3 separate regions of the Homo sapiens genome follow, and regions 1 and 2 are each linked to region 3. The links come from fine-mapping of genetic effects on gene expression. A gene starts in region 3. Each other region holds a variant in brackets. All regions are shown on one strand. Distances are between the middles of the regions. Region 1 has its middle 12 kb from the start of CPMER. Region 2 has its middle 50 kb from the start of CPMER. Region 3 holds the start of MN1 (MN1 proto-oncogene, transcriptional regulator).

The links.
Region 1: its variant is fine-mapped to the expression of MN1 in monocytes after LPS (Quach 2016, PIP 0.95). The same link has a PIP of 0.9 or more in monocytes after Pam3CSK4.
Region 2: its variant is fine-mapped to the expression of MN1 in tibial artery (GTEx, PIP 0.92).

Annotation. Positions count from the first base shown.
Region 1 is chr22:27,722,609-27,730,692 of GRCh38, forward strand. No RefSeq gene overlaps it. Among named protein-coding and RNA genes, the nearest start is that of CPMER, 12 kb to the left of the region's middle. The variant G/T (reference allele first, on the strand shown) is at 4,380.
Region 2 is chr22:27,661,466-27,669,188 of GRCh38, forward strand. No RefSeq gene overlaps it. Among named protein-coding and RNA genes, the nearest start is that of CPMER, 50 kb to the right of the region's middle. RefSeq lists an enhancer at 5,991-6,490. The variant G/A (reference allele first, on the strand shown) is at 5,799.
Region 3 is chr22:27,799,693-27,804,692 of GRCh38, forward strand. MN1 (MN1 proto-oncogene, transcriptional regulator) reads right to left here and starts at 2,064. Exons shown (of 2, transcript NM_002430.3): 1 at 1-2,064. The coding sequence starts at 851. RefSeq lists enhancers at 1-130, 4,473-5,000.

The DNA of each region.
Region 1 (8,084 bases), 76 kb before region 3:
CTCTCTCTACCACATGAGGACACAGTAAGAAGGTGGCTGTCTGCAAACTAGGAAGAGATCCCTCACCAGCATCCAACCATGCTTGGCACGCTGATCTCAGACTTCCAGGCTCCAAAACTATGAGAAAATAAATTTCTGTTATTTAAGCCACCCAGTCTATGGTACTTTGTTCTGGCAGCCTGGGCTAATTAAGACATCCAGAGTCAAGACATGGGGAATAGATTCCATCTTTTGATGGAAGGAGCTGCAAAGCCACATCATAAAGGGGCATAGATAAGAGAAGGAGTGGGTAAAGAGAAATTGAGGACTTTTCCAATCAGTTTAACACCACAGAGCCTACAAAGTAGAATTTCTGTGCACCAGCTTTGAAATAACACAGTCATTGTGGCTCTGCCATTTTCTAGCCACTTGGTATTTGGTAAGTCACTCAACCTCCCTAAGCCTCTACGTATTCATCTGCCAAATGGGAATAAAAATAGTGTCTACCTCATAGGACCATCATGAGAACTAAAAGAGACAACATGTTTGAAGTGATTGCCACCCTGTAGGTGCTCAATAAATCTTTGCTCTTCATCATCAATACCACCTGCACAGACTAGTAACATGGAGGTTGAAAACTGGACCTGAGTTTAAATTCTAGCTCTGTCATTTGTCAGCTGTGTGACCTGGAGTAAGCCCCTTGACCCTCTGCACCTCTATTCCCGTATCTGCAAAATGGAGAAAATAATAAACACTACCTCCAGGGGCACTGTAGGATTCAGTATAATAATTTCTAAGAGAAGCTCAGCTCAGTAGCTGGCACAGCATTGAGTTCTTGGGAAATTGACATGATTATGATTATTGACATCTGTAAATAGGAATACCCATCTCAAGAGTGGCTCTGAGGAACAACAAGGGTAATGAACCACACAGCACCTTGGAAGCCAGGAAAGGCTTGCATTTATCAATATGGTTTTAGTTGTATGAGACAGAAACACAAATCCAGTTAGTTTAAGCAAAACAGGAGTTGTTCTTAGCTCTTGTTACCAAAAATTCTGTGAGAAGGACAGGTGTGAGACAGGCTCCCAGGATGCCAACCTCATCTAGACATTGCCTTTGACTTCATCTGCCTCTCTTTTTACTGGTCACTTTCTTTTTTCCTTATCTTCACAGAGTGGGGGACACAGCCACAGACAGCTCAGGACTCATCTTCATGGAGGAAAAGGGGCTGCCTTCATCCAGCCCAAGGGCAAAAATCCCAGAGAAGAGCTCCGATTGGCCCACTAAGAGTCACATGACCATCTTTAGCCCAGTCACAGCAGTCAGAGAGTGGGATAGTATGATTGGCAGCCCCCAGCAGAAGCACTTATTGAGAAGAGGAAGAACAGATGCCTGGAAGGAAAGGACGGTTGTGGGATTGGTGGGGGTATATTCTGTGTAGATGAAACAAAAAGGCCTGCTTTTGATGCAGAACAGGTGAGCCCCAAAATTTGGGCTTAGCCTGGGAGGGTTCTTCCCTTTGCCTAGGAAAGAATTCAAGCACAAGCCAGTGGTGGTAAACAGCAGCTTTAATTGAAGTGTCAGTGTGCAGCAGCAGAGGTACTGCTCTTTGCAAAGCAGGGCTACCCCATAGGCAGTGTGCCCAGAGTAGCAGCTCAGAGACAGTCCTACAGTCATATTTATACCCACTTCTCATTACATGCAAATTAAGGAGCAGTTTATGCAGAAATTTCTAGGAAAAGGATGGTAACTTCTGAGTCGTTGGGTTGTTGTCATGGAAAGGGGCATAACTTCTAGGTGTTGCCATGGCAATGGTAAACTGAGATGGCACACTGGTGGGTGAGGGGAGTCTTGTGGAAAGCTGCTTCCATCCTGGCCCTGTTTTAGCTAGTCTTCAATTTGGTCCAGTGTCTGAGCCCCACCTCTGGAGTTGAGTTCTGCCTCCTACTTCAGTTTGGCTCTGTTCCATTCCCTCCAAATCTGCTTTCCCCATTTGACAGTAGAAACCCTTAAGGCTCAGCCAGGTCAAGAGACTCAGGTCACACGAAGTAGGAAAATGTAAAAATAACTTCTAAACTTCACTCTTGACACTATGTGATGCTGTGCCATTTGGAAGGGTCCCTTTTGCCTACGCAGCCCTGCTCTGCACGTCACCCAGCCTGGCCCAATTTCCCTGCATCTTGGTCTCTGTCCATGTGTCCTTGGCACACATATGGAATGAGCTATGGCATTCAGTTGCTCCCTCCCGGACCAGTTGCCACAGCCCGGTACTGCAGGCCCATTCAGCTGAGTCTTGGAGTTGTCAAACATCTCAGAAGCAGTCACCTACATATTTCAGGTCCAGCCAATGCAGCCTGCCTTTGTCCAGCACCATTTGCTGCATATTTCAAGAGAAATTAGATCCACATGACCAAATTCCTCCACACTCATCTCACTCAGGCCAGGGTTTGGCATGAAAGGGCTGTGGGCTGTGGAAAGGTTTCCCTCCCTCCTGCTTGGGACCAGAGCACAGCTACTGATGCGAAGGGGATGACAAGCCCCCAGCCGAAAGTGCAACCAGAGCCTTCAAAGGCTTAGCCCATAGGGTCAGAGCAGGACAAGGGCCTAGGAAGAGAGAAACCTGACATCTCAGCACCCTGGGCACAGGGGAAGGCTAGGGTACAGCCCTTCCCAGCTGCTGGCTGGAAACAGGATGCATGGAGTCCAGAGCTCAGTGCTCAGAAGTCAGGCCAGGCCAACCTGGCACCCCAGCCCCACTCTGCCACTCTGTAGCCAGGTGGCCATAGGCAAGCCTCAGTTTCCTCATGTGAAAAATGGGGATTAAAGTGGTGTCAATCCCACGGGAAAGTGGTCTCATAATGACATTGAGGTGAAGAATGCAAAAGTAAATGTCAGTTGGTACTATTATTATATTGTTACCACCATCATCATCACCTTCATCAGCACCATCACCATCATCATCATTAAAATCATCACCATCACCACCACCATTATCACCACCATCGTCATCACTATTTTCTTCACCATATGGTTACCATCATCATCACTATTACCATTATGCAAAACTTAGTGGTTAGGCCAGGTCTGATGACTTCATCACCACAACCACTGTCCTCCTGCAGATCACCATCATCTTTAGCCTGGAGTACTGATAGAATCCTGTAACTGCCTAGCTGCCTCTAGTGTCACTCCCTCCAAAACCCTTGCTTCTGCTCAAAGCCATTCCATCATCCATAGAGTAAAGCCCAGGCGCTTTCACGTGGCATCAGGGGACTTTCCCCTTGTGCCCCTTTCTGCCTTATCACTCACACCTACAGTCACATCAAGTGGTTCCCCTTTCTACAAAATGTGCCACGCTTCCCTATGTTTCCAGTACTATACACCAGCTGTTCCCGCCACACAGAATATTCTTCCCAGTTGCCTCTCAAGCTCCCAGTGACCTTTCAGGGTTCAGCTCAAATGGCTCCTCGACAAAACTCCACTCTATCCTAGCTGGACAGCATTGCCCGTAGAAGGCTCTGGACTTCTTTGTCAAAAAGGGAGACAAGCATGAGTTGGAGACAGGTGTAAAAGAGGTATCAGCACCAACAGGAGTCTTTCCCTGATGCCATGAGAGGAATTGGGAGGAAATAGCTGTCTCAATGGGGAATTCAAAATTATTTATCTCACGTCCCACTAAGGGGAATGCACCCAGCCCTTCAGGACGCACTGGCATGCATGATGTACCAGGGAGGGGCTCCACACAGAAGTCTACCTCCCCCACGATCCTCTCTGAGCAGAGCCAGCCCCACATTTGTAGGGGACGTGCCTGTTTTATGGCTGAAGTTATATAACTCATCCTTCTCTGAAGCAGACATTCTTAGTTCAAACCCTGACCCCACCCCTTCCCGTCTATTTGAAAGACTTAGTTTCCTTGGCTATACAATAGTTGGTTGTGCTCAAGGACCTCTGGGAACCCTTCCTGTCCTAAGCAGAGAGACAATAGCCTGTGAATCTGGCAGTCCTGTATTCCATCTGACAGATCCGTCCACCCTTAACGTGAGAATAGGAGTTACCCTGCAAGTGTGCTGGAAGTTCCAGCCCTCTGCTTGCTGTGAGCAGGCTCTGAGCCTCGGTGTCCCTAGCAGGGCAGATAATGGGCTTTCCTCTTGCACAGGACTCTTGTGAAGTCTGAATGGCTCTTTCTGAACATGGAGCCAGGCACAGGGGATGCCCCTGTAGCCCTAGTTGTGCATGACTCACGACTCTTATCCATTCCACAACAAGAGCCCAGCCCCAGTGGCCTCTGGCTGGGAGGGGGTTGGAGAGTGAGTTCAGGGAAGCTAGACGCCAGGAAGGGCCACACCCAGTGCCTATTGCTCTCCCCCAACCCCCCACACTCTTTTAAATCTGCAGCCTGC[G/T]TGACAGTGCATTTGGCTGGATCCTTAAAAAAATAATTTCAGAGAAAATGCAAATGACACAGGAAAACAAGTTGCAGATGGTGCGTGACTCCCACAAGAGCACCGCCCTGGCTCCTCCCGGGTCCTTCAGCAGCGCCCCTGTTGTCCACCCCCCACCAAGCTGACTTATGGTGTTCCTTAGGGTGGCCCAGGGGAGCCAGCCATGCGGGAAGGGCCCGGCCTCTTTCTTGAAAGGAAGAAAGGAGGGAGGGGGCGGAGCTGTCTACCACCTGCTGGCCGACCCTGCTTCAAGCCATCTCAGCTGCACACCTCCTGGGTGTCAGGCCCTGCCCTGGCGACACCACTAGGATTTGATCTGATCCCTCTGCCCCAGGAAGGAGGCAGATACCTTTAAACTTCAGTGCCTTAGGGAACTATGCTAAGGGAGGCTTGCCTGCTTCATTGATCCACCTCCTACCAGTCTTTCTTTTCTCCTTGTGCTCCAGTCACACTGGCCAACTTGTTGTTTCTTCACACACATCAAACTCTCCCTACCTCTAGGCCTTTGCACTTGGCTTCCTCTGCCTGGAAGGAGTTCTCAAATCCTTCCTCTTCCAAAGACCTTCTCTGATCACCCACTACATAGTAGTCCCACCCCATCATTCTTTATTAAAGCACACAGTTCGTGTCCTTCATAACTGTTTTTACAATTAATAACAATGTACTGGTTTGTGTTTCCTTGTCAATTGGTGGCAACAAGTCAGTGTATTCATCAGTGTTTCCCCAGGGTCTACCACGATGCCTAGAATATGAAGGTGCTCAAATATTTGTAGGAGGGAGAAATGAAATGTTCCTTGTTGGGTGCTTGAAAAAACAAAGAGGCATTTGAGCAGGGTTCTGAAGGATGTTTAGGAGTTCATAAGCAGGGGGGAAGGTAATGGAGGCAGATGAATAAAATGAATGAAATGGAGGCAGATGAATGAAAGAGCAGGGAAACTTGAGCATGCGGGCCTAAACATGAGGTTCAGGGCCCACAGGTGAGCTTCAAATGGCGTGGACTTAAGCCCAGCTCCCCCATTCACAATGATCCTGGGGTTGTAACTTCAGCTCCCTGAGCTCTGTTTCCTCATCTCTAAAACAATAGGGTTGGGTAAGGATTTGTAGAAAAGATACACGGGCTTGGCACACTACTGGACATATAGTCAGTGGGATAAACAAGGCAGCTGCTATTTTCATGCAGGGATTCAGCAGAGGGACTTCTAGGCCCCAGGCTAGGAGAGAGAGAGAAGGGAGGGAGGGAGGGTGGGAGAAAGAAGGAGACAGAGAGAGGAAGAGAGGGAAAGAGAGAAAGAGAGAGAGAGGTGGAGAGAAAGAAAGAAAGAAAGAGAAAAAGGGAGGGAGACAGAGAGAGAGAGAGAAAGAAAGAGAGAGAGAGAAAGAAAGAGAGAAAGAAAGAAGAAAAAGAAAAGAAAAAGAGAAAAGAAAAGAAAGAAAAACAGAAAAAGAGAAAGAAAGAAAAAAGAAAAAGAAGAAAGAAAGGAAGTAAGGAAGGAGAAAGAAAGAGAAAGAGAGAAAGAAAGAAAGAAAGAAAGAAAGAAAGAAAGAAAGAAAGAAAGAAAGAAAGAAAGAAAGAAAGAAAAGGAAAGGAAAGGAAAGGAAAGGAAAGGAAAGGAAAGGAAAGGAAAGGAAAGGAAAGGAAAGAAAAGAAACCTGAGACATCTAGGCCATCAGCAGGGCTGTGAGGAATTCCTTCAGCTTCATGCAGAGAGCCAAGTTCCAAGTCGAAATCGTGGCTGGGGGCCTGGGCCAAAGAACTGGGGGGATAGAATTTGGAGTCACATGACCCTTGAGCAATGCTTTGAGAGACTCTGGCTTAAACCTCCATCTTTGCCTTCACCTAGTCCTCAAGGTTCCAGGCTTTGGTAGTTTCTGCTGAAACTCTTTCAGCTGCCCTTTGCCCAGGCTGCAACCTCTTCCAGAAATGCCCTTTCTCCAGCTGTTGAAACTCCCAGCAAATTTGCAGCCATCTCCATGGCACTTCAGTCAGGCGCTAGCACTAATGCCCAACCCTCTGGCCACTTACAGGACAACCATAGTCCTGACGTTTGTCTCAGGGTCTGAAAGTTTCCAATCAGTGCACTTAGGCTAGGAATAGAGAATCCCATCCACCAAACTAGAAGTTCCTCAAGGAGTGGGATCAGGTTCGCCTTGCCCAGCACGCAGGAGGTGGTGGTCAGCTAATGTTTGTTGAATGAATAAATAAGCAAATGCTTGAACTGTAGAAGGCAGGGGAAATGAGCTTAACCCCACCTCTGCCTTCACCAATACCCCTTCCCCATGACGCAAATCTTATTTCCAATCCAATCAGGAGAAAACTGAGGTTCAGGGAGGTCCTAGTTTGGCCATCTCTGATCTCATCTGAGTCTGTCCCTTTCTGAGTCTGTTTCCCCATCTGTATGGGAAGTAGCACCCCTGGTGCAGGGCCAGCTTCATGAGTGTGTGACGGGGGCAGTCATAAGCCGGCTGTGTCTAAGACTAGGTGGGAGTGGTGACGTCCCCAGAAGGCCCCACTCTCCATGCACTTTTCCTTACCCTGAAGGCAGAAAGAGGCAATGATGTTCTAAGACACACAAAGGACCAATGTTTACTTAAAGGACTCATGTTTACTTCTGCAGGAAAAGAATGAAGGGAAGAGGAAGACAGAGCAACCCACAGTTCCTTCTTTCAGCCTTTCCTCACTCTTCAGTAAGCCAAAAGTAGAGAGTGTTAGTACAGTATGCATGTGGCAAGAAGTGAAATAAAAACAGTTGATTTGGTCAGGCTCAGTGGCTCACACCTGTAATCCCAGCACTTTGGGAGGTCAAGGCAGGAGGATCACTTGAGGCCAGGAGTTTGAGACTGGTCTGGGCAACATAGCAAGACACCCACCTGAACAAAAAATTTAAAAATTTAGCCCAGGTAGGGTAGCGTGTGCCCATAGTCGTAGCTACTCAGGAGGCTGAGGCAGGAGGATCTCTTGAGCCCAGGAGTTTAAGGCGGCAGTGAGCTAGGATAGCACCACTATACTCCAGCTGGGGTGACAGACCAAGGCAATGTCTCAAAATAACAATAACAATAATAATAGTAATAATAATAATAATAACAGTTGAGTTAGTTTTGAGCAGCGTTTCTGCCATTCTGGTAATAATGAAATGCCTGTGTGTGTGCAAGCTATAAATATGAATTTTGTCATTTCAGTGATTCCGCTTACAAGTTAAATGCTCTAATATTTGCGCTTAAAACAGGCATTGTATAATATAAAGATGAGTGGTAAAATTCATGCTAATAACTTATAAAAGTTTAATTTTTCTTTACTTAGAAGGATATTAAATAGCAAATAAAAAATGCCATGACAAGGCAAGAGAGAGAGACTACGGAAGAAAGGAAAAAGTCTTTATATTTTAGTACATTTCTTAATGCCATTTTTCTCTGCTTTTTGAACAAGGGGCCTGGAATTTTTTATTTGTTTTTCTTAGAGAAAAGGTCTCACTTTGTCGCCCAGACTGGAGTGATGTGGCACAATCATAGCTCACTGCAGCCTCCACTCCTGGCCTCAAGCCATCCTCTTGTCTCAACCTCCCAAGTAGCTGGGACTACAGGTGCACGCCGCCACGTGCAGCTAATTTTTCTATTCTATTATTTGTAGGGATGGAGTGTTGCTGTGTTGCCCAGGCTGGTCTTGAACAC
Region 2 (7,723 bases), 140 kb before region 3:
TGCTAAGAAGCCAGATGCCGCCAGGCATGGAGGTTCCCACCTATAATCCCAGCACTTTGGGAGGCCAAGGCGGGATCACTTGAGCCCAAGAGTTCAAGACCAGCCTGGACAACATGGCAAAACCTCATCTCTACAAATCATACCAAAAAAATGATCTGGGTGTGGTGGCACACACCTGTAGTCCCAGCAACCCAGGAGGCTGAGGTGGGAGAATGATCTGAGCCAGGGAAGTCGAGGCTGCAGTGAGCTATGATCGTCCCACTGCACTCCAGTCTGAGTGACAGAGTAATACCCTGTCTCAAAAAAAAGAAGCCGGACACAAATGGTCTCATATTGTATGATTCCATTTATCTGAAATATCCAGAATAGGAAAATCTGTAGAGACAGAAAGTATTAATGGATTAATGATTGTCAGGGGGTAGGGGGTGATAGCTAACATTATAGGATTTCTTTTGGGGGTGATGACAATGTTTTGGTATTTGACAGTAGTGATGGTTACACAACTCTTGACTATACTAAAAACCATTAAGGCCGGGCATGGTGGCTCACGCCTGTAATCCCAAGACTTTGGGAGGCCAAGGCCGGTAGATCACCTGAGGTCAGGAGTTCGAGACCAGCCTGACCAACATGGTGAAACCCCATCTCTACTAAAAATACAAAAAATTAGCCGGGCGTGGTGGCACGAACCTGTAATCCCAGCTACTCGGGAGACTGAGGCAGGAGAATCACTTGAACCTTGGGGGCAGAGGCTGCAGTGAACCGAGATCACACCACTGCACTCCAGCATGGGTGACAGAGTGAGACTCCGTCTCAAAAAAAAAAAAAAAAAAACCATTGAATTGTACTTCAAATGGGTGAATTGTATGGTATGTAAATTGTATCTCAATAACGCAATTACAAAAAAATATATACACTGTCCACCCAGGACTTGGTATATGCTGTTCCCACTGGCTGGAACACCCTTCCCCCACCTTTCTTCCTCTCACCTAGTGTTGGGCATCCCCAAGGGCTGAGAGGTACAGCCTAGGGTGGAGCAGGAGGGACCTGCAGAGATGTGTCCTACACTGCACCCATGATGGGCTGTGTGACCCTCAGCAGGTGACTTCGTGTCCCTGAGCGTTGGTTGAGTCTGAGCCTGGGGGGGCCGGTGTGATATGCCAGAGCTGATAAGAGGTGCTTAGTTCAGGCTCTGGCCTGACCTGGATGCCCAGTGAGTTGTGGTCATTGGGCCCCTCACATGGCATGACACTGAAGTCACAGGGAAGCTGAGCAAAGCAGAACACAGCCAGCCTTGCTTTGGCAGATGCCTGGAACGGGAGTGGGATGTCACTGGGAGCGTGCAGGGCAGGCAGGCCCCAGCCAGGCCGGGGAAGGGATTTGCTGTTCCCATCTCCCTGCAGTGAGGGCAGGCGCTCCCTGACCCCCATCCACTATCTCCCTGATGCAAGGAGGCCTTGGCCTGTGGCCCAGCCAATGGACCCACCCACTGCGCTCTCCCTGGGAGAGATGCCAGAGGGCTGGAGGGAGGGCAGGGTCCCATCAGAACCATGTGCCAGGGGCTGGACTTGCAGAGCCTCGGCAGAACTCCAGCCTCAGCCCCACGGCAGCCAGTGGCCTTTTAGGACATGAATCCAGTCACGTCTCCCCCTTGCTTAAAACCCTCTGCTCACCTTTTACCATGGCCTTCAGGACCCTGTGTGTCCTGGCCCTGCCCAGCAATCTGACCCCGTCTCCTCTCACTCTTTGCCTTGCTCACACCAAGCCAGCCTCCAGGCCTTCACCCTGGGCATTTCCTCCAGCCTTCCTGCCGCTCCTCATTCCTCAGGCCCCAGCTCAGAGGTCACCTCTCAGAGAAACATCTCCCACCTGCTTTGGAGCCTGCTTTGCTCTTTTTTCTTTTTCTTTTTAGAGATGGGATCTTGCTCTGCTGCACAAGCTGGAGTGCAGTGGCGAGGTGATAGCTCACTGCAGCCTTGACCTCCTGGGCTCAAGCAATCCTCTCTCCTCAACCTCCTGAGTGGCTGAGACTACAGGCTTGTGCCACCACTCCTGGCTATTTTTTATTTATTTATTTTGTTTGTAGAGGTAAGGTCTCACCATGTTGCCCAGGCTGGTCTCAAACTCCTAGCCTCAAATCGATCCTCCCACCTCAGCCTTCCAAAGTGCTGGGATTACCACTACACTCTTCTCTGCCTCAATTCTGTCTTCATGTACAGATAGCACCCAACCACGATTGTCCAATAAGTGCACAAGGCAGGCAGCACAGGTCCCGGCCCCAGGCCTGCCCCTGGTTCACTGAGAGACCCTGAACAGATCGCACCTCCTCTCCACATGACAGACCAGACCTTTGTGAAGTGTGAAGAAGCGGAGGAATCTCCTGTTTGACTCAAATTGTAGGTGGCCCCCAACACCTAAAGCAGCTAGAGCTGCCAAATGTCAACCCTGATTGTTCTGCTGGTGGAAAGGTGAAAGGTGGGGCAGGGGCAGCGTTCTGCTCCATCATATTTTTATCACTCTTCCCGTTTTCCCCAGTGACTAATTCTTTGTTCATCAGAGTGAAAAGATTGTTTGAAAAAAAAAATGCTAAATCTCAACTGAGAATGTAAGGTGAGATCGTTTCTCAGGGTTCCTCCAGGTCTGGAAAATGCAAAGGGGAACTTCAGCAGAAGAGGGCAGGAGGGGCTCTTGTTTTTTTGCAAACCAAGAAGGAAACACGAGTGGGGGAATTTGAGAGAGTGCAGTGGGCTGGTGGGGAGACACCAGCAGTTGTTCCCATACCGTTGCTCATTTATTTATTTATTTTTAATTTAATTTTTTTTTTTTTTGAGATGGAGTCTCATTCTGTCGCCCAGGCTGGAGGGCAGTGACACCATCTTGGCTCACTGCAACCTTCGGCTCCTGGGTTCAAGCAATTATTCTGCCTCAGCCTCCCGAGTAGCTGGGATTACAGGCACGTGCCACCATGCTCAGCTAATTTTTGTATTTTTAGTAGAGACGGGGTTTCACCATGTTGGCCAGGGTGGTCTCGAGCTCCTGACCTCAAGTGATCCACCTGCCTCGGCCTCCCAAAGTGCTGGGATTACAGGCGTGAGCCACCACGCCCAGCAGGCACTATTTCTCATTTCTCCAGATCCCTCCTCATCTTGGCCACTGGCTTCTGATTTCATTCATTCATTCACTCACTTAACTCATGTTCCTTGAGCTCCTACTTTTGGAGCTTTGCAGGGTTCTGGGGATCCAGCCAAGCACACAGCAGACACGTCCTGTCCCTTGTGGAGCTGAGGGTCTGTAGTCAGTGCCCCCAGGGGTCAAGGTCTCTCTGAGTGTGATGTACTACTGGCCCCACATGGACCGTGACAGTCACTCTCCTCGGTTCCCACTCTGCACCACTATTCACGCAGCCTCCTATGATGGTCATCGTCCCATAAAATCAGGCCCATTAGAATCCTCAAATCTATCCAGGAGCTCCTGTCTGCCCAGGGCCCCATCTTGGATGACACCATTACATCTTGAGGGTGGTTACTGATCTTCCGTCTTTCTTTTGTTAAAAATTAACTTCAGGGTTTTTTTTCTAATTTTATCAAGACAGTAAATGCATATTGTAGACAATCTGGCAATGTAGGTATTTGCCTATATTACTAGCTGTGGAACATCAGGCAAGGTGCTTCTCAAACCCTTAATGTCGTCATCTGTGAAATGGGGACAGTCCTAGTACTCACATCACAGATTCATTGTAAGGAGTAAAAGAGACTCCAAATGTATGCATCTGGCACAGAAGAAGCTTAAAATAAATGCACTAAGATGAAGACCAAAAAGAGACTTGTAGCCCAACATCAGGGACAAACCCAGACAACATCTTATAATAGATTACTCTCTTCCAGATATTTTTTTTCTGCACAGATTTAAAGAAAGAAAGAGACAGATGTAAAACAACAATTTTTCAGGTATATGGAGATCACAATGTAATTCTATTTTGTAATCTGGTTTTATTCTCATTTAACAGCCTGAACATTTGACCCACAAAATGATAATATTACCTTGAACCTATAAAGACCTTTCCATCTTTTTGTTACTTCAATGGAAATGCAAAGTTTTAGCAAACTGCCCCTCTGCTGGTTATATGTAAGAAAGTGTATTTCCCTATGTCTATAAGTCCTCTTCTAAGACCTAATTTTATGGCTGAACTGAATTTCAGCCTGTAGCTAGACCTTAATTGATTCAAGCAATGTAAGTAAAAATAAGTGGTAATAAGCAAAAACAAAACAGCAAAATAAGTAACAATGGTTATTACTAGTGTTGTAACAGCATTGGTCAGGTTGTTTGTTTCTACTGATCTGCTATAATCAATGCTGTCATGACATCCTCGTTGATAAAATCTTTGTCCATAAGAAACAAATTCTTTAGGATTTCTAAAGGAATCCATCCCCAAAACAGAGACTATGAATAAGCTTTCCAAATGTTGTTGCCCTTTGTGATATGCCCACAGAGAAGGGACCAAGACATGTTGGGCATTTTTTAAGTGTTAAGTGTTATGCTAGGCATTTGGCCCAGGCATTGAATCTCCAAGCAGTGGCTCACACCTGGAATCTCAGCACTTTGGGAGGCCAAGGCGGGAGGATTGCTTGAGGCCAGGAGTTCGAGATTAGCCTGGACCACATAGGTAGACCCCATCTCTACAAAAAATTAAAGAAAAAGTAGCCAGGCTTGGTGGCACACATCTGTAATACCAGCTACTCAGGAAGCTGAGGTGGGAGGATCACTTGAGCCCGAGAGTTTGGGGCTGCAGTGAGCTATGATTGCACCACTGAGCTCCAGCCTGAGTGACAAAATGAAATCCTGTCTCTTAAAAAAAAAAAAAAAAAGAATCTCCATAATAACCCTTTCATTTTTTGTTGTTGTTGTTGTTGCTTCAATGGATATGCAAAATTTTAGCAAACTGTTCTGCTACTTATGTGTGAGAAAGCCTATTTCCCCACACCATCACCAATACTGGGCATTATGATTTGTATCAGTCAGCTATTGCTGTGTAACAAACCATTACCAAACTCAATGGCTTAAAATAGTAAGCATTTATTATTGCTCATGCATCCACAGGTCAGTCAGCTGGTTCTTCTGATCTCAATCAGCCTACTTGTGCATCACTGGCTGATTTTGCTGATTATTACCGGGCTCTCTCAAATGTCCAGAGCTTGGCTCTACTCCACATGGTCTCTCCTCCTCCCCCAAGCTAGCCCAGGCTTGTTCCATGGCAGCAGCAGAATTTCAGGTTAGCAAATCGAAGCTGCAAGTCCCTTATGGCCGAGGTTCAGAACAGGTACAGAATCACATCATCACATCCACCACATTCTATTGGCCAAAACATGTCACATGACTGAGGCTTGATTCAAGGAGTGGGAAACAGACTCTATCTCTTGATGGGAGGAACTGCAAAGCCACATTGCAAAGGATACAGATACAGAGAAGGGAGGCAAATTAAGAACATTTTTGCAAACAATCACGTAATTTTTTAATTTTTAATTTTTTAATTCTATTTTTAAAGTTTTTACCAATTTTCTAACTTCAGAAAATGTTTTAATGTATATTATTGGATTATACCCTGCTTTCCTTCCCTCTGTTTATTGGCCACTCATCAATTGACTCTTTGCACCCGAACACTAATCTTTATATACACCCTGGCCCACACTCCGCCTGGAATTCCAGTCCATGCTCCTTCTGGAAGCCAGCCGTCACCCCCACGCTTCAGCTCCTCCTTCGCATAATGAATAGCCCAGGAGCCTGCAGGAGAGAGAGCCATGGCC[G/A]ACCACCACCAGCACTTCCCCCGGGCAAGCCCCATGATGACACCATCCATCACTGCCACCCTCGGTGGCTGTGCGCCCCAGGCCCGGCCAAGGAGGAGAGAAAACACTGCCCACAGCTCAGTGGAGCCCTTAATGATTACGTCAAGTGGCAAGCCATTTATTAGTCTCCTTAGCGGCCAAAAAAAATAAGGCCTGAGAAGCCAGAAAGCACATCAGGGGACTGTGGTTTTATTTTTTATAACCGCTTCAAGCCTCAGACACCAAGGGGAATATGGGTCAGGAAGGGAGGCAAGGCTTGGGGGCTGGGGAAACAGGAGTTCTGAACCAGTCTCTGCAGAGGGACTGTGGGCACAGAGAGTTTGCACGGCCCATCCAAGGTCACACAGCTCCCAGGCCGGCGTCCTCCCTCAGGGTCATGGTGTGCCTTCCACTGCACCTGTGTTAACAGCTCCTGCATTTTACCATCAATTGCTTCGAACCCTTCTCTGGAGATTGGTGAATAACAATTAGACATGAGCAAGCATTGGAAGGGGGTGCAGAATATAGGGGGTTCTGGAATTGGAGTGAGAATACCAGGATATTTCACTTCTCTGAGCTTCAGCTTTCTCCTCTGCAGAATGGGCATGAATCAGGGCCAACTTTACGGCCATGAGATCTCTGCAGTTGCACAGAGCCCGGCGCTCAGAAAGGCTCCAAGCTGGGTTTATGTTTTGCTGTTACCGTCTTGAAATTCTTTGTGTGTGTGTGTGTGTGTGTGTGTGTGTGTGTGTGTGTGTGTGTGGCAGAGTCTTCCTCTGTTGCCCAAGCTAGAGTACAGTGGCGTGATCTCGGCTCACTGCAACTTCTGCCTCGCAGGTTCAAGTGATTCTCCTGCCTCAGCCTCCCAAGTAGCTGGGATTACAGGCATGCGCCACCACACCCAGCTAATTTTTGTATTTTTAGTAGAGACAAGGTTTCGCCATGTTGGCCAGGCTGGTCTTGAACTCCTGACCTCATGTGATCTGCCCACCTCAGCCTCCCAAAGTGCTGGGTTTACAGATGTGAGCCATCATGCCCGGCCACCATCTTGAAATTCTTAATTTCTGCACCTATCTATGTTTTGTAAGTGAAGCCCAGTGGGGCAGTGAAGCATGCAGGTGAGCAGAAGAGACTCACGGAAGAAGGGCAAACATTTCCTATTTTAGTACCTTTACTGTACATTTTTCCTGCCTTTTAAACAAGGAGGACTGCAGTTTTGTTTCACACGGCAGCCTGCAAATTTTGTTGCCACCCTAAGCATGATGATACCTCCTGGGCCAGGCTGGGCACCTCAGAGACTCTCAGAGAGTGGCTGGCCCCACCAGTCAGGGGCTCCATCTCTCCCTTTGTAGGTTCCTCTCCTCCACTGGAACCCGGGACGGTTCTCCTGGATGACACCCCTCCTCTTCCTGCCACATTTAGACAGGTTCCAAGCCCCTCCTTTCCACCTCCTTCTCGTCCCTGCCTCCATTTCTGCTCTAGTTTCATCGCCCCAGTATTGCTCACCTAGAATTCCTGCCTCCTGCCAGAACCTCCCAGCCTTTACCCTGCCCTGCCCCCACCCACTCTCTTTACAAGGCTAAGCCCTGGTTCCCCAAGCTTCCACATGGGGCCACAACACCCCACTCTGGGCTCTAGACATTCCCTACCAACCACTGGCTGGTGGTTCCCATGTTCCACATGTCCTTCATTCCCCATGCCTTCCTAACAGCTCCTGTTTATTGAGCACCTACTGTGTGCCAGGACCCATGCTAAGCATCTTGCATGAATGAACTCATTTCATCCTCATAAGACCCCTATGACATAAACACTGTGAATATCTTCAACTTACAGGTGAGGAAACAGAGGCACAGAGTAGTTGATTCACTTGCTCTAAGTCACACAGCAAGTGCCAGAGAGGGCTTGGA
Region 3 (5,000 bases):
CCCACCATGCCCGCAGCTCTGGGCATGGCCGAGGCGCCCGGGAAAGCGCCCCCAGGAACCTGGCGACCCGCTGCATAATGAGGCAGCTGCCCTTCGGAGTCAGAGGGCGAAAACATGTCAAAATGTCCCGAGGGCGCCTCGCCCGGGTAATTGTATTCCAGCGAGTCGACGGCTCCTTGGTTCGTCACCCTCCGTGGCTCCAGACTGTGGGAATCGGAGCCGCTGGAGGACGGCAGGCCGTGGAAGGAGGCGGCTCGGTTAGGGCTCTGGTCCAGCGGCAGGCATGGGGCCGGCACGGCGTGGCTGGAGGCACCTGAACTGTGGAAGTCCGGGAGGTTCCCCGGTCGCTGCGGGCCGAAGCTCTCAGGCCCCTGGCTCTCCGCCATGTGCTCATAGCCCTCGGCGAAGGGCGGCTGGCTGCCCAGGCCTCCGGCTGCGCCGCCGTAGCCGAGCAGGCGACCCCCGTGCAGGCACGAGGCCCCGGGGTCCGGGCCACCGAAGTTGCCCCCAAAGTGGGGGTGATGCTGGTGGGGATGATGACTTCCCGGGTGGCCGTGGTGAGGCTGCTGGCCGCCAAAGAAGCCGTGCACAGGCTGCGCTTGCAGCCCCCCTGCGTGCAACTCCGAGTGGCCGCGCGCGTGGAAGCCGTAGGGCTCCATGTTCATGCCCAAGATCGGGGGTTCGCCCAGCGCGCTCATAGCAGGATCCACAGGGCCAGGGGGCCCCCCAGTGTGGAAAGCCGGGGCCTTAAAGTGGGTGTTCATGCTCAGTCCGGTCTCGTTAAAGTTCCTCTCGCCCTGGCCAGCGTTCCTGCTGTTGACCTGGGGCTCGAATTGGTCCAGCCCAAACATACTTGGCGGGGGGCAGAGGGGGATCAATAGGGCATGACAGCCGGCTCTCCGCGGCGCGCCTCCGGCCAGCTACTCGTTCCAGCCCAGGATTGGGCGCTCCGGGACGCTCAGCACCGCGGGGGCTCAGCGCGCACCTCCACCCCGCCTGATGTGAGGGACGGGGGGCGGGGTATTAGCTCCTCTCCTGAAGCTCCGATTCTGCCCGGGGAGGGCCTCTCACATCTTGCGAGGCCGCGGGGCCTCTAGGAGCCGTGTTGGGGGGCCCATGCCCCGGGCGGTTGTCACAGCCGCGGGTGGGTCTGCGGGGAGGGGACGAAGCCGCGGATGAACGGAGACAAAAAGTTAAGTGGGGGGAATGGGGAGGGAAGGGGGTTGGGAGAGCAGAGCGATCACCTTCTCAAGTCCGATTGGGTCTGCTGGGGAGCCCTCAGGACGCCGCCCGCAGCCTCCCGGAGTCCGTGGCAGAGCTGCTAAGGGCAGGGGAGGGAGACCCTTCAAAGCCGCGGCTGGCGCCGGGCACCGACAGAGCGGTCCCTCCCCCCGCCCCCCGGAGTCCCCGCGCCCCGCAGCCCGAGCCTCCACCGAGCACGATCCGCTCGCACAATCCCCGTAGGCTCCGGGCGAGCGGCTGCTGCTTCTTCAGCGGGTCGGAGGACTGGAGGCTCCGCTCGGCATCGCCGGTGCCGGCCCCCGAGCCGAGGACGCAGAGGGGCTGCGAGGCGGCAGGCGCCGGGGGCTGGAGCCGAGGGTCGGGGAAAGGCGCGGCTCCTCTGCTCGGCAGCGGGTGCGCTGCGTTCGGCGCGCAGCTTCGCGGCCACGTCCGCCGCCTGCCGCTTCTGTTCTCCGCCGTTGGGTGTCTGAGTTCGCCGGAGTCTCCGCGCACCGTTGCAGGCGCGGGAGGGCAGCGAGACGAGGGGTTGGGTCGCTCCAAGGCTCCGGTTCCCTGCCTCCGCGCTGAGGTGCTTCGCGAGTCCCTCTCGGACCTGAGGGAGGGGGGCGTACGCGGGTCGGGGGGCCACGCCGGGCGAGCAGGCTAAGGCGTTCCCGCTGCGCTCTCAGAGCCCGGAATGGGGGGAGGGGGGCGCGGGGGCAGCTCTGGGGGGTCTGCGCACCCCTCTCCCGACTAGCGGGGGGGCTCTGCGTGGGGCGTTCCGAGGGTCTCGGCTCCCCTCTCTGTGTCTGCCTCTCGCCCAGCGCCGGGAGAAGCAGCAACAAGTTTTGCATTTCAGCAATCAATTTCAGCCATTACATTTGCACCAATCAGCGCCGCCCAAGTTCCGGGCTCGGGGCGGGGCTCGCTCTTAAGGTGGTCCGGGGTCCTGGCTGCCGAAGCCCCCGCCACGAACCCGCACTACCCCAGCTCTGGGGTCCCCTGCGCCCGCCTCTCCTCGGGGTCCGGCGTCAGTGCGCTGGGGGCGCGCCCCGGCCTCCGGGCGCATCGAGCTGGAGAGGGTGCAGGCGGAGGAGAATGGCGGGAGCTTGGCTTTGTTCACCCCCTTCCCATTCACACTGTTCCCAACTCCCCACCCCCAACTGGAGCGAGACCCACCGGGTGGGCAGGGGGCGGGGAGGTGGGCGGTGAGCGGTACGGGGCGCTCAGACAATGAGGTCGCCAGGCAAAGACCCTAGACTCGCCACGGAAAGTCGCTAAGTGTCTACTGCACTTCGGCTCCGGGGTGAACACTCCGTTCTCCGCTAGCGGCGCCCAAGTTAGCCGGCCCTGGGATTTTCTTGGAGGGTAAAGCAGACGGGGAACCTCGAAGTTAGGGTTCTCCTCGAGAGACCTGGGCGCTTGCTCACTCCTCCGTCACTAGGGCGTTCACAATTGTTCCCCTTCCCCACTGCCTGGGGTTCCCGGTTCTCACCGGCCGGCGTGGGCTCCAAGGAGTCACAGTCACTCAGCCACTTTATGGGGGAGCACATCGGTTGAGCCCAGTAACCGGAGCGACTTGCGAGGCGGCTGGGAACCCCGAGAAGACACGCACGAAGAGGGCGCACCCGCCGGGCCGCACACCTTGCCCTGGGCCACCCGGTCCAAGACCCAGACCCTCTGCGGGTGCGAAGTTGGCCTCCTTAAGAGATCAATTAAACTGAAGAGGCCGAGGAATGGAATTGGGCTGTGATACTAAAATCAATAGGAGTAATTTAATATCTGCCCTGCTCTTTATGAAATATTTATCCCAATAATCTTAGTTAAAATGTTTAGATCGTCCTGATCCCCACAGAGGCTGAAATCTATCTTGCAATTAGAAGTTGGAAGTTAGAGGTGATGGAGGATAGAGGTGTTTATTCTGTGCGCCTGTGTGCGTGTGCTCGCGCCTGCGTGCGTGTGTTTGTGCATGCGTGTGTGTGTGTGTGTGTGTTCCTCCCTAAAGTGTGTGTAGGGAAGGAGGGGGGAGAAGGCCTTTAATTTTCCTTGCCATAAAATAGCACGAGGCGATTTTGCTAGCAGATTCGCATTCTTAGGAGAAGGGCGAAAAAAGAACTTTCTTTGAAGTGCCCCTGATATCGCTATTAAATCTAAATAAAATTAAGCGTGGTGTATGAAAATGCCTTTCCCCCCCCACAAAAGAAAGTGTTTATCGCCCGAGTCTGTCTAGCGTTTGCTAAATTACGCATGAAATCTGAAATGAAATAAACGTTATAATAAAACCAACCCCTGAGCCCTTTTTATTTAAAAACCTTAGATTAAGCACTCCACCGTCGCGGGCAGGAGTTAAAAAGTTACCATGTCGTACGCGCAGATTCATTGCTCCCCTGAGTTGCGGCTAGGAAGGCAGTGCTAAGTATGCCAGAACCGACATGCCGGGGGTGGGGGGAAATGGGCTCAACTTTGGGGTAGCGGCAGAATTCCTAAGAAATTGCCCCCCGCCCAAAAAAAATTTTAATTAAAAATAAACAAACAAGAAAAAACAACAACTTTAAAACTCAGCCAGAGCAAGCTCAGATCCAAGACCTTTCCCGGGGCCTTCCTGTTGTGGAAGTTTACAGACATATATATTTTTTCTTTTTTGAAATTAAAAATGAAAATTACCCCCATCAAAAATGGGGTCCATAAATAAGCATAGGGAATAAGTATTTGTACAGGGCGGTGGAGTTTTTAAAGGATTTTTCTGCAGGATCAGGTTGTTGGTCTGTGATTAAATATTGATTTTGTGTAATTAGTTTTCATGTGAACTATCCTCTTGCTGATAGCTTAGAGGTTTCAGAACTAGAAAAGAAATGGAATTGGACATGGAAATTATTACTTAGCAAAGTGACAGGGAAGTGAGAGCCAGAGAAAAGACTGAGGCTTTGCTGATTTAGGCACAAAGAAATAAAGGCTTGGGTAGGCCCTCCAGTGACACCCCCCCCCCGCCCGCCCCGGGGCCTAGGACCCTGGGGCTCTGGGGCTCCCGAGACAGAGCAGGGGGGATCTTGAACCTCCTGGACAAAAAGCGGGAGGCAATAGGAAAACCTGGTTGTGAGGAAGAGGCCCCCACATGGGCAAAGGCCTGGGCATAGTCCAAGATACTGGGTCACACACTCAGTCTGCTCTCGACTATGGGTGTCTCCTGAGGCACCTATGAGCCGCCTGTGTTTCTGTGTCTGGAGGAAATAGGGAAAAGTGGGGACCTGTCTGGAGCCTGGGGGTGGGCCAGGAGAGTGGGAAGAATGGCTCACAGGCCTGTCGTCTGGGGAGACCCGGATGGGGGCGTCTGCAGAGCTGAGGCATGACTTCACACAGGGCTGGGTGGGGGTCTCCAGCACACCTGGGCAGGTTTCCTGTGGAATAATTCCGTGTGCTCCAGGGAGGGGGGGTGTGGGAGTATTTTTCTGGGGCTGTTTCCAAGAGTTAGCTCCACAAGGTGTGTGAGTGGCTGAAAGAAGGGAGTGTTTGGACCTGGTGAAGTTTCTGTTCAGGATGTGTGTCTCGGTCACCTTTCTTTAACACTGCAAATGTTGTGCGGGTGTGTGGCACACGTCTGCATTTTGTGCCTTTGCTTGTATGCGGGTGGCGGGGCATCTGCGTGTGTTTCTGTCCATGCCTGCGTCGGCGTTCGTGCATGGATCTTTGGGGGTCTTGGTGCATGTTCTCTGTCTGTCCCCCAACCCCGCATTTCTGTGTGTGTGAGCCACTGCGTTTGTACCTGTGTGTGTGCAGCTGCC